2 linked regions of the Homo sapiens genome follow. The protein of the gene in region 2 purifies or fractionates together with the protein of the main gene of each other region. This does not show direct contact. Each region holds a gene or a part of one and is shown on either strand. Other genes may lie near its edges.

Region 1 (4,583 bases), on a different chromosome or scaffold from region 2:
ACACTATTGTCTCTGTTATTTAAATCTCCATCAACATTCTTAATGATTTCCTCAAGGCTGTTTTATTCTTTGCCCTCCTTGCACCTCCCACCGGCTGTGCTCACCTGGTGCCCGCCCATCCATGTCTTCCATGCAGTCTTGGTAATGCTTAGCAAGGAGGTAATACAGTTGAGTCAACTTAGGGGCTTTCCCAGCTTCCACAAGAGCTTCTGCTGTGGCCAAGTGCATCACTGTGTCGTCACTAACTCTCCACCTTCCCACGTCTAGGGCATCCAAGCCGCCCAGCTGGGCCAACTGCCGGTGTATCTTCTCCCCATCCTGGAGGAACTCCCACTTCCCATTGTAGTACCCCAGGGCATCTCCAGCTGCACTCAGCACCATAGCAGCCACATACTTCTCCATCAGTCCCTCACAATTGCTGGGCTCTGGAGAGGGTGTCTTTGTGGGGAAATTAAGACAAAGGAAATAGGATGAGGAGCAAGAAGAATCAGAAAAAACAACGACTCTAGCTATGTTTTATTGAGCACTCACTACTTGCAGACATTGTATCAGTGGCATCTCATGTAATCCTCATCACTGCTCTATGAGGAATATAAAGCCCATTTTATGTATGAACAAATGGAGGACCATGGAGATAATGCAGTTTGAGAAATGTTCAGTGACTTGTCTCAGGTCACAGAGCCAATAAGTGGCAGGGCTGGGATCCCAACATAGGTCCATCTGACTCCAAAGTCTATCATCATAACTACAACTGTATCTCTTGCCTCTTGGTGAGTAGTAAGCCCACTAAATTCTGCAAGTCAAACCCAGCTCATCATTTGCTCTTCTTAGCTGGGATTTGGCCTTAGAAGTGCAAGGCTTTACACTTCCTATTAGTGTCACAATGTGTAGTTCACAAAGCACCTGCACATTCATTGTCTCACTAATAGGGAGGGATTACAGTATGCATTTCACAGATAAGAAAATGAAGGCTCAGATAAGCTAAATTCACAAAACAAGAGGAGTGGAAGTACTGGAACCCAAATCTGATTCCAGCCAAGCCAGGATGCTTGGTATCACACCACTCAGCCTCAGTCCAGATCTTCTTACCTTGGGCAACCTCTTGGTGCCTCAGCCTCCACATTTATAAAATGGCACTGATTTTAAAAAGTAACAACCTCCTGGATTTGTTGTTAGGAATAAATAAATTAAATTTCATAAAGTTGGCTGGACGCGGTGGCTCACGCCTGTAATCTCAGCACTTTGGGAGGCCGAGGTGGGTGGCTCATCTGAGGTCAGGAGATCGAGACCAGCCTGGCCAACAGGGTGAAACCCCATCTCTACTAAAAATACAAAAATTAGCCGGGTATGGTGGTGCATGCCTGTAGTCCCAGCTACTCAGGAGGCTGAGGCAGGAGAATCGCTTGAACCCAGGAGGCAGAGGTTGCAGTGAGCCGAGATTGTGCCACTGCACTCCAGCCTGGGCGACAGACCAAGACTCTGTCTCAAAAAAAAAAAAAAAAAAAAAGTTCTTAGAGTGCTTGGCACATAGTAAGCTTGATTTTTGACATATTTGTATTATTCATATACAACCAGGGAAAATGGGTGTTCTGTTTTAGAACTAGAACATTTTCTCCCCACAACCTTTCCTTCGACAGTAATGTTTAAATATTGTTTCTCTTAGAAATGATCAGCTTCTAGAGAATTCGAATCTCTATTAATAATATACCCACCATGAATGAAATCCCTGGTAAAGCGCTGGCTTCCCTGTTGGTGCATTTCCTAAGAACCCCCCTCTTTCAGCCAATTCCTCAGGGTTCCCTTCTCCCTGTGGCTTTCAGGTCAAAGCCCTCCATCCCATCCAGGCCAATACTTTTATAAGGGTCTGGCAGACTAGCTCATTCTCCCCTCAGGTGAAACTTTTCCCTCCCCTCCACTTATCTAAACCCTATTTACCCAAGGTCTAGTTCAAGTCAGGAGGCTTCCAGAAGTGCTTCTGCAGCTGCACTGCTGTTGGCCATGGAATGCAGGCTGGAGAGCCCCTGGAGAAGGAGTAAACGACGAAGATGGATGCGTTCCACTACCCAGTTACTGGTAATGCTGAGTTTCTGAGCTCACAAAGGATATTTGTAAATGTTATTTACATAGTTTATTATTTACAGTGAAGCCTAGGCACTGAGATTCTGGGCTACTAGACCTGACAGACACCCGGGACAGCGGTTTGCCCATCTGTAAACTGGAGGGGGAAGTGGGGAGGTATAGGCTCTCGGAAGTTCCGTCCTGCGCTGCGATTTTCAGACACTAGGCCAAGACACTCTGCTTCTTGGCCTCGGAGGACTAACTTTAACCCCCCATACCCTCCCTCTCAATGTCCTCATTGTCCTTTCCGTAATTCCTTCTGGCTCCACCCTAATGTGTGCTTCTGTGAATTGCAAGCTGGGATGGGGGAAGAAGACCGGCATCTTTTTTCGGTTGTAAATTCCCTTTAACGTTCGCTTTCAGAACGCTGTAATTACTTAACTCCTCTGAACTTTCACGGGTCACATTCTCGTACCCGAACTATACATTCAGAACTAAGATCTGATCAGCTGCTTCCGGGCCATGCCCGGCTTTGGAAAGAAACGGGGCGGTTGACACGCTCCCACGATTTGCAAGACTGGGAATCCTCATGGTCGGCCACACTCGGAGAGCGCCAGGGGCGGGGGAGGGGAGCGCGGGGCCGAGGGCCGGGATCGCGATACCTGCTGTAGCCTGGACTGGAACGCGCGAGCGACGGGCGTGGCGCGGGCTCCCGGGGCCGGGGAAGAGGCCTTGGCTGCTGCGGGTGGACGAGGGCGCGGGTTGGGGCGGAGCCGGGTCACCGGGTTCCGGGACTGTCCCCAGATAAGCAGGGTGGCGGCGAGGGCCCCCGCACCTGCGCTTGGCCGCGCTGAGTGAGCTAATCTTGGAGCCTCCAAGGCGGCTTCCTGGCACCGCCGCGCCCTTCTGCACCCAAGCGAGAGTGGACGGGACCTCCGTCGCCCGCCCCAAATGCTCTGAAGAGCCCGGAGCCTGGTGCCCGGAATGTGGCGGCACCGGAAAGCCGGCTCTCGCCTGGCTGTGGTCAGTGACTCCCGTGTGGCCCCGGCTGACGCCTTCGCCCGTGCTCACGTCCGACTTTGTAGGACTGTAGTGGACCGGGTGTGCCCAGATGCTTGAAGAGCGTACTGAGTGTGCCGCCCTTGCCAGGGTTCTGGGCCCTCACGCATAAAGTGGGATAATAATATCTGCCTCTTAGAATGGTTGTTAAGGATTCAGTTAGTTAATTTTAACTAGTCATTTATTTGGCAGCAGCGTAGAATTCTTGTATCCTGATCGTAAATAAAAGCAAAGAAAAACGAAGAGTATTTTTGTCTAAATACATTAATCATGTCACTTTTAAAGCAAATCAGAATCACCATATGCAAATATTCTATATATTTCTCCAAAGTTTTAAATTTGCTATGCCTATTTTCTTGCTGTAATGACTAGCCTTGGTCTGAGAGCTTTTTAAAAAATTGATATATAATTTATATATAATGAAATGTCCTTACACCATAATCGAGATATGAAATATTTCCATCACTTTAAAACATTCTCTTGTGGCCTTCCCAGTGAATAACCATCTCCATCTCCAACTCTAGCCTAAGTGACTTTTGAGTGTTTACAAAAATCAAGTTCACCAATAAGGGAGGCAGAGATCACCTCCAACCCCCTACACCCTCTAGCTCTTAGTGAGCTAATCAGCTGCATCTAGAAGCCAAATTGACACTAGGCAGATTAACAAGAGAAAAGTATACAAATTTTATTAATTTTACATGTACATGGGGATGTTAAGAGACTGAATCCTGAAGAAAGTGTCCAAAGCAAGATGCTTTTATACTTTTTAGAAAAAGAGTGATAAATTTAAGAAGAAGTGACAGGACAAAGAAAATCCGGCTAGGGTGGTAAAAAATTTCTAGGGGAGCCCCTAGGAGATATATGGGGGGTGGGGTGTAAAACAGGTGGAAGATAATGGTTACTTTGCAAGAATGTTTACTCCAGTCCAAATGCCACCTCCAGTTCCAAATCTCTGGTGATGAGAGCTATTTTCTCGCTCTGGCGTGGAGAACATACCTCTCCTAGAGGAATCTTTATTGCTGGCTGCATGCAGGAAGAGACAGCTCAGCTCCTGTCAGGGAACCAGGCTCATTTGTCTTTCACACAGTATGCCAATCACTGAGGCGCACAAGTTTTGCAGTAGAGAAAGGGTGTATTCACAAGGCAGCCAAGACAGGAGACTGGAGAACAGGCCTCAAATGTGCCTTTCCAAAGATGGAATTTTAGGAGTGCTTATGGGATAGGGGAGGAAGGTGGTCCAAGGTTCAGAGAAAGATGAGGTAAGGAAAAGTGAGGCAATCGGTAATCTGAGCAAGCATAGTCAATCTTCATGGCTGTTCATAGAACACATGTTCACAAAATCGTGACGTTAGCATGATCTGAGAGTGGAGTTTTGGGCCTTCTGATGTCAAAAGGTCACCCATTGGACACTCACGCAGGCCAAGATGAAGGGCTGGTGGCTTGAACTGGACAAGAACTGACTCTAA
Region 2 (4,320 bases):
GAAAGCTCCTTTTTTCCTCCTCAACTTCTTTTTTTTTTTTTTTTTGAGACAGTTTCACTCTCACCCAGGCTGGAGTGCAGTAGCCCTATCTGGGCTCACTGCAACCTCTGCCTCCTGGGTTCAAGTGATTCTCATGCCTCAGTCTCCGGAGTAGCTGGGATTACAAGTGCGCACCACCAAGCCCAGCTAATTTTTGTATTTTAAGTAAAGACGAGGTTTCACCATGTTGGTCAGGCTGGTCTTGAACTCCTGACCTCAGGTGATCTGCCCGCCTCAGCCTCTCAAAGTGCTGGGATTACAGGCATGAGCCACCGTGCCCAGCCCTAACTTCTTTTAATAAAAGTTTCAAACATACAAAAGTTGAAAGATGAATGCAATAATCACTGATATAGTACAATCACCGCCTAAATTCAAAAATTCTTTTTTTTTTTTTTTGAGACAGAGTTTCCCTCATTGCCCAGGCTGGAATGCAGTGGTGCGATCTCGGATTACTGCAACCTCCACCTCCTAGGTTCAAGTGATTCTCCTGCCCCAGCCTCCAGACTAGCTGGGACTACAGGTGCGTGCCACCATGCCTGGCTAATTTTTTGTGTTTTTAGTAGAGACGGGGTTTCACCGTGTTAGCAAGGATGGTCTCAATCTCCTCACCTAGTCATCTACCTGCCTTGGCCTCCCAAAGTGCTGGAATTACAGGCATGAGCCACCACGCCCAGCCAAACATTCGTAATATTTGTCATATTTACCTTTTGGGAGAGAGGGGCCAACAATATAAAAGTAAGTTGCAGACATGATCATACCTTAGCTTTCATCATCTCAGAGGGCTGGATTCTAACTGTAACTCTTTAAATTACGCCTTCATAGGCTTTCCTTTTCCAGTATTTCTTTGAACTATGTGAGTATTTATTATTTTTACAATCACTTCAGCATTTAAGTGCTTTCTTAGATTGCCACTTAAGGTCACATACATGCTGTTTCCTCTAGAGAAACAAGTTTTAAGAGGTATGTACCACATTATATTTAAAATAGTTTCTCACATTACCAAGCACAGAAATGAGCATAGGAGGCTAAGAAAGGGAAATGCTGCTTACCTATCTGTTGAGGGACAATAAACACTAAATAGGGAAGAAATCCATCCAGTGTTATAAGTAGAAAACATTTTCTTCTGAGTCCATTAGTCTCCTGACTAGTCTCTTAGATTTAGAACTCAGCTCTGCAGATGGGCTTTAGTGGATAAAGAAACTCCACATCACAAAGAAGGGAGTGCATCTGTACTCTAAGAAACAAGGTGTAATTCCAATAATCAGCACTCACTCACCTGGGATCTGGCCGTGAGGCGCAGAGCAGCCACTTCTCCCTCTTCTGTGCTCTTCTCTTGGAAATGGGGAGAATCCTGGGAAGACAGAGCTAACGACAAGAAAGCAGTAATGATGAGACCTAGGCTTAACGTGCCACTCAGATTTAAAGTCTAAAAACCACTTCAACATACTATATGTGCTGCCTACAAACACTGAGACTGAAGGTACCCCCAAAACAACCGACCTCCTCCCAGGACCCTCTTCCCGGGATATGCGGGAATATTGCTACTCTGGGCTCGAATTCAGTTGCTATAATCATAACACATTCTGTAAGATGGCATCCTCTGATCTAGAAATTAGAATATGTCAGTAAATTTCCCAGTTTAATCTATACTCGTTGGTTCTCACTCTGAAAGCTTATTTATAATGTAGATTGCTGGACCCCACCTCAAAGTAATAAGCATTAGTTGAGCCTGGGGTACAATCCAGAAATCTAACAACCACCCCAGGGGGAATTCTGGTGTAGGAGGTCACAGCACAACCTTCATGAAACTGGTCAGGTAGAATGGAAGTCAGTCATTAACTACTACGCCTGTTTTCTCCTATGTAAAACAAAACATTTTTGACAACCAAAGAGGTGAATTCTTGCCATAGAAGTTAACATTTCACTCACATTTTGGGGGTAGCTTTGAAGGGTCCACTGTGTGCCCAGCTGCCATGGAAAGGGCGGTGCTCCCATACCAAGCCCTTCAGTCTCACTTAAAAAGCCCATCCATCCCCAAGACAATGGAGACAGCCAGCCAAGAGCCACCTCCCCTGAGCCAACCGTTTTCCCTTCAGGAGCAGGAATTTCGTCCTTCCACGCTACAAGTTCAACACGTCCGCAATTCTCACCTCCTTTCTCAGGCATTTCAGCCAAATCTGTCTCCATGATCACCACCTCCTCCTTGTTCTGGAGATTCTGCTCTTCACCCCAATTCAGATCTCCCTGGCCAGACGAGTTAGAAGCCCCCCGGGCCTCGTGGTCCCACTTCCTGCCTTCCCTCCTGGGCTCTGATGAAAGGCCTGGGTTAGATCGGGTCTCTTTCTCACCGTGGAGTCTGCCTCAGTCCTACGGCGCTGGAGCCTGGAAGCCCGGGGACAGCATCCCTGAGGCTGGGTCCTCAGATGTCTGTCCCTACCGCTTGAAGCTGTCCCTGGGGGAACCGGGCACCTGGAAGAGGTGACGCTGGGGCATCAGGAGTTTGGACAAATTCTGCCGCGCTCGGGGCACTGGCCCAGAACCCCGCGACCACCCCGCCCGTGGCACAACCGCGTCCCCCGAGGAGAGGATCAGGCCAGAGTGAGAAGGGACAGGGCTCATGGTCTGCCCTCGAGGCCCCTTTAACAAACGCGCACTCTAGCCCCGACTCGGCACAGAACGACCCGGGGAACCACCGCCGAGGCCGAGCCGAGACGAGCGACATCACCACAAGCAACTCACCTCCCATCCCGGGCCTCACAAAGGGGACGAACTTCTTTGGCCAGCTCGGAGTCGCGCATGCGTAAGAAGGAGCGGAGCCAGGCGTGCTGCCCTCATCCCGCCCGGAACTACAATTCCCAGAAGCGCCTTGGCATCGCCAGACTCCGGTTCTCCGCAGGTGGGAGCACCCGTGGTGCGGCTGGGAGAATCGGACGATCGAAGAGCTCCGTCCGTCTCGCGAGAGTATGAGGCAGCATCTCCTGTGTCTAATCCTCAGAGCAAGGGAGGGAGGGAGCAGCGGAGACGCGGACCGGAGTCAGGGTCCGTCCCCGCGCTTTGTCTGCACAAGTTCCTGCGGCACAGTGCTTAGGGCTGCTGAGTTCAACCCAAATTACTCCGGTGTAAGATACGTTAAAATACATAGCTTTTATCCATATTTTGTGCGCCCAGAACTCATCCTTTTGCTTTCAAAACATACGAAGGATGTTTTTAGGAAGAGCAGGTCCCTCTTTGTACACTCAGTCAGATGTTCCTGTATCCACAGACTACTTGTAATCCTAAAATTCATGTATTTAAAATGAGTTGAAAAGATTGAACCTGTTGTAACAAATTTAAGCAATAGGTTCTTTGCAGACATAAGCATTAGTTTAAACATATCATAAAAGGTGGTTCTTTCAAGGGAGAGTTATTCAGTCTCTCCAATTCTGTTAGAGGACTAACCCATCCACCTCCAGCTTCGTGTCTAGACTGCCCTCCTTTTCTCAGTGAATGACATTACTGCCCACTCACTCATTTGCACAAACCAGAGCCTGAATATTCTTAACTCTTTGATCTCACCATCTATTTATCACCAAGTCCTATTCATTGTATCTTAAATAACTCAATTGTTTCCATCTTTCTCTATTCTCAGTAGCATTACCTTAGTTGGGGCCACCACCATTTCACTAGGATTGCCGTTGCAGCCTGGTAACTGGATTCCCTAACTAAGGTTTTCTCTACCACCAATCTGTTCTCCACACTTTCTGGCTAGTGCTCTTTCTAAAACAAGAATATGCTATTACTTTAGTGCTTCAAACCGTTCAGTGGCTTTTAGAAACTTCAAGGAAAGATGATTTCCAGCTCCCAGAAGGGATTTGTAACTCCCATTATCTCAGCCACCTGGTAGTTACACCTTTGTGCAATCCCCTCTTGTGTATGGACTGGGACTTGCTTCTAACCAATACAGTGCAATAAAGGTGACATAAAAGTCTAACGTGTGTCTTGCTAGGAGACTCCTCTCTTGCTGGCTTTGATGAAGTGGTGGTGATGTTGGGGAGGCCCATATGACAAGGAACTGAGGATGGCCTCCAGCCAATAGCCTGCAAGAACCGAAGGCCCTTGGTCCCACAACCTGCAAGGAGCTGAACCCTTTGGACAGCTCTGTGTGCTTGGAAGTGAATCATTGTTTGTAGAGTCTTCCCATGAGAACCCTGTCTTGCCTGACATCTTGATAGCTGGCTGCAAAGGACTCACTTAAGCTGTGCTCAGACTCTCACCCATAGAAACTATGAGATAATAAACATG

What was found.
Region 1: the proteins of ZNF286A (region 2) and ADPRH purify together in Homo sapiens (affinity purification with mass spectrometry; one large-scale study listed by BioGRID and IntAct). This does not show direct contact.

Annotation. Positions count from the first base shown.
Region 1 is NC_000003.12:119,577,989-119,582,571, reverse strand, and holds the start of ADPRH (ADP-ribosylarginine hydrolase), read right to left. Parts: upstream 3,081-4,583; 5' UTR 2,721-3,080; exon of another isoform or gene 2,022-2,720; 5' UTR 1,936-2,021; intron 439-1,935; 5' UTR 403-438; coding exon 105-402; intron 1-104.
Region 2 is NC_000017.11:15,698,236-15,702,555, reverse strand, and holds the start of ZNF286A (zinc finger protein 286A), read right to left. Parts: upstream 2,805-4,320; 5' UTR 2,786-2,804; coding exon of another isoform or gene 2,779-2,785; intron 2,509-2,778; exon of another isoform or gene 2,422-2,508; 5' UTR 2,349-2,421; coding exon of another isoform or gene 2,227-2,348; coding exon 2,190-2,226; intron 1,405-2,189; coding exon 1,316-1,404; intron 1-1,315. UniProt on the Homo sapiens protein: May be involved in transcriptional regulation.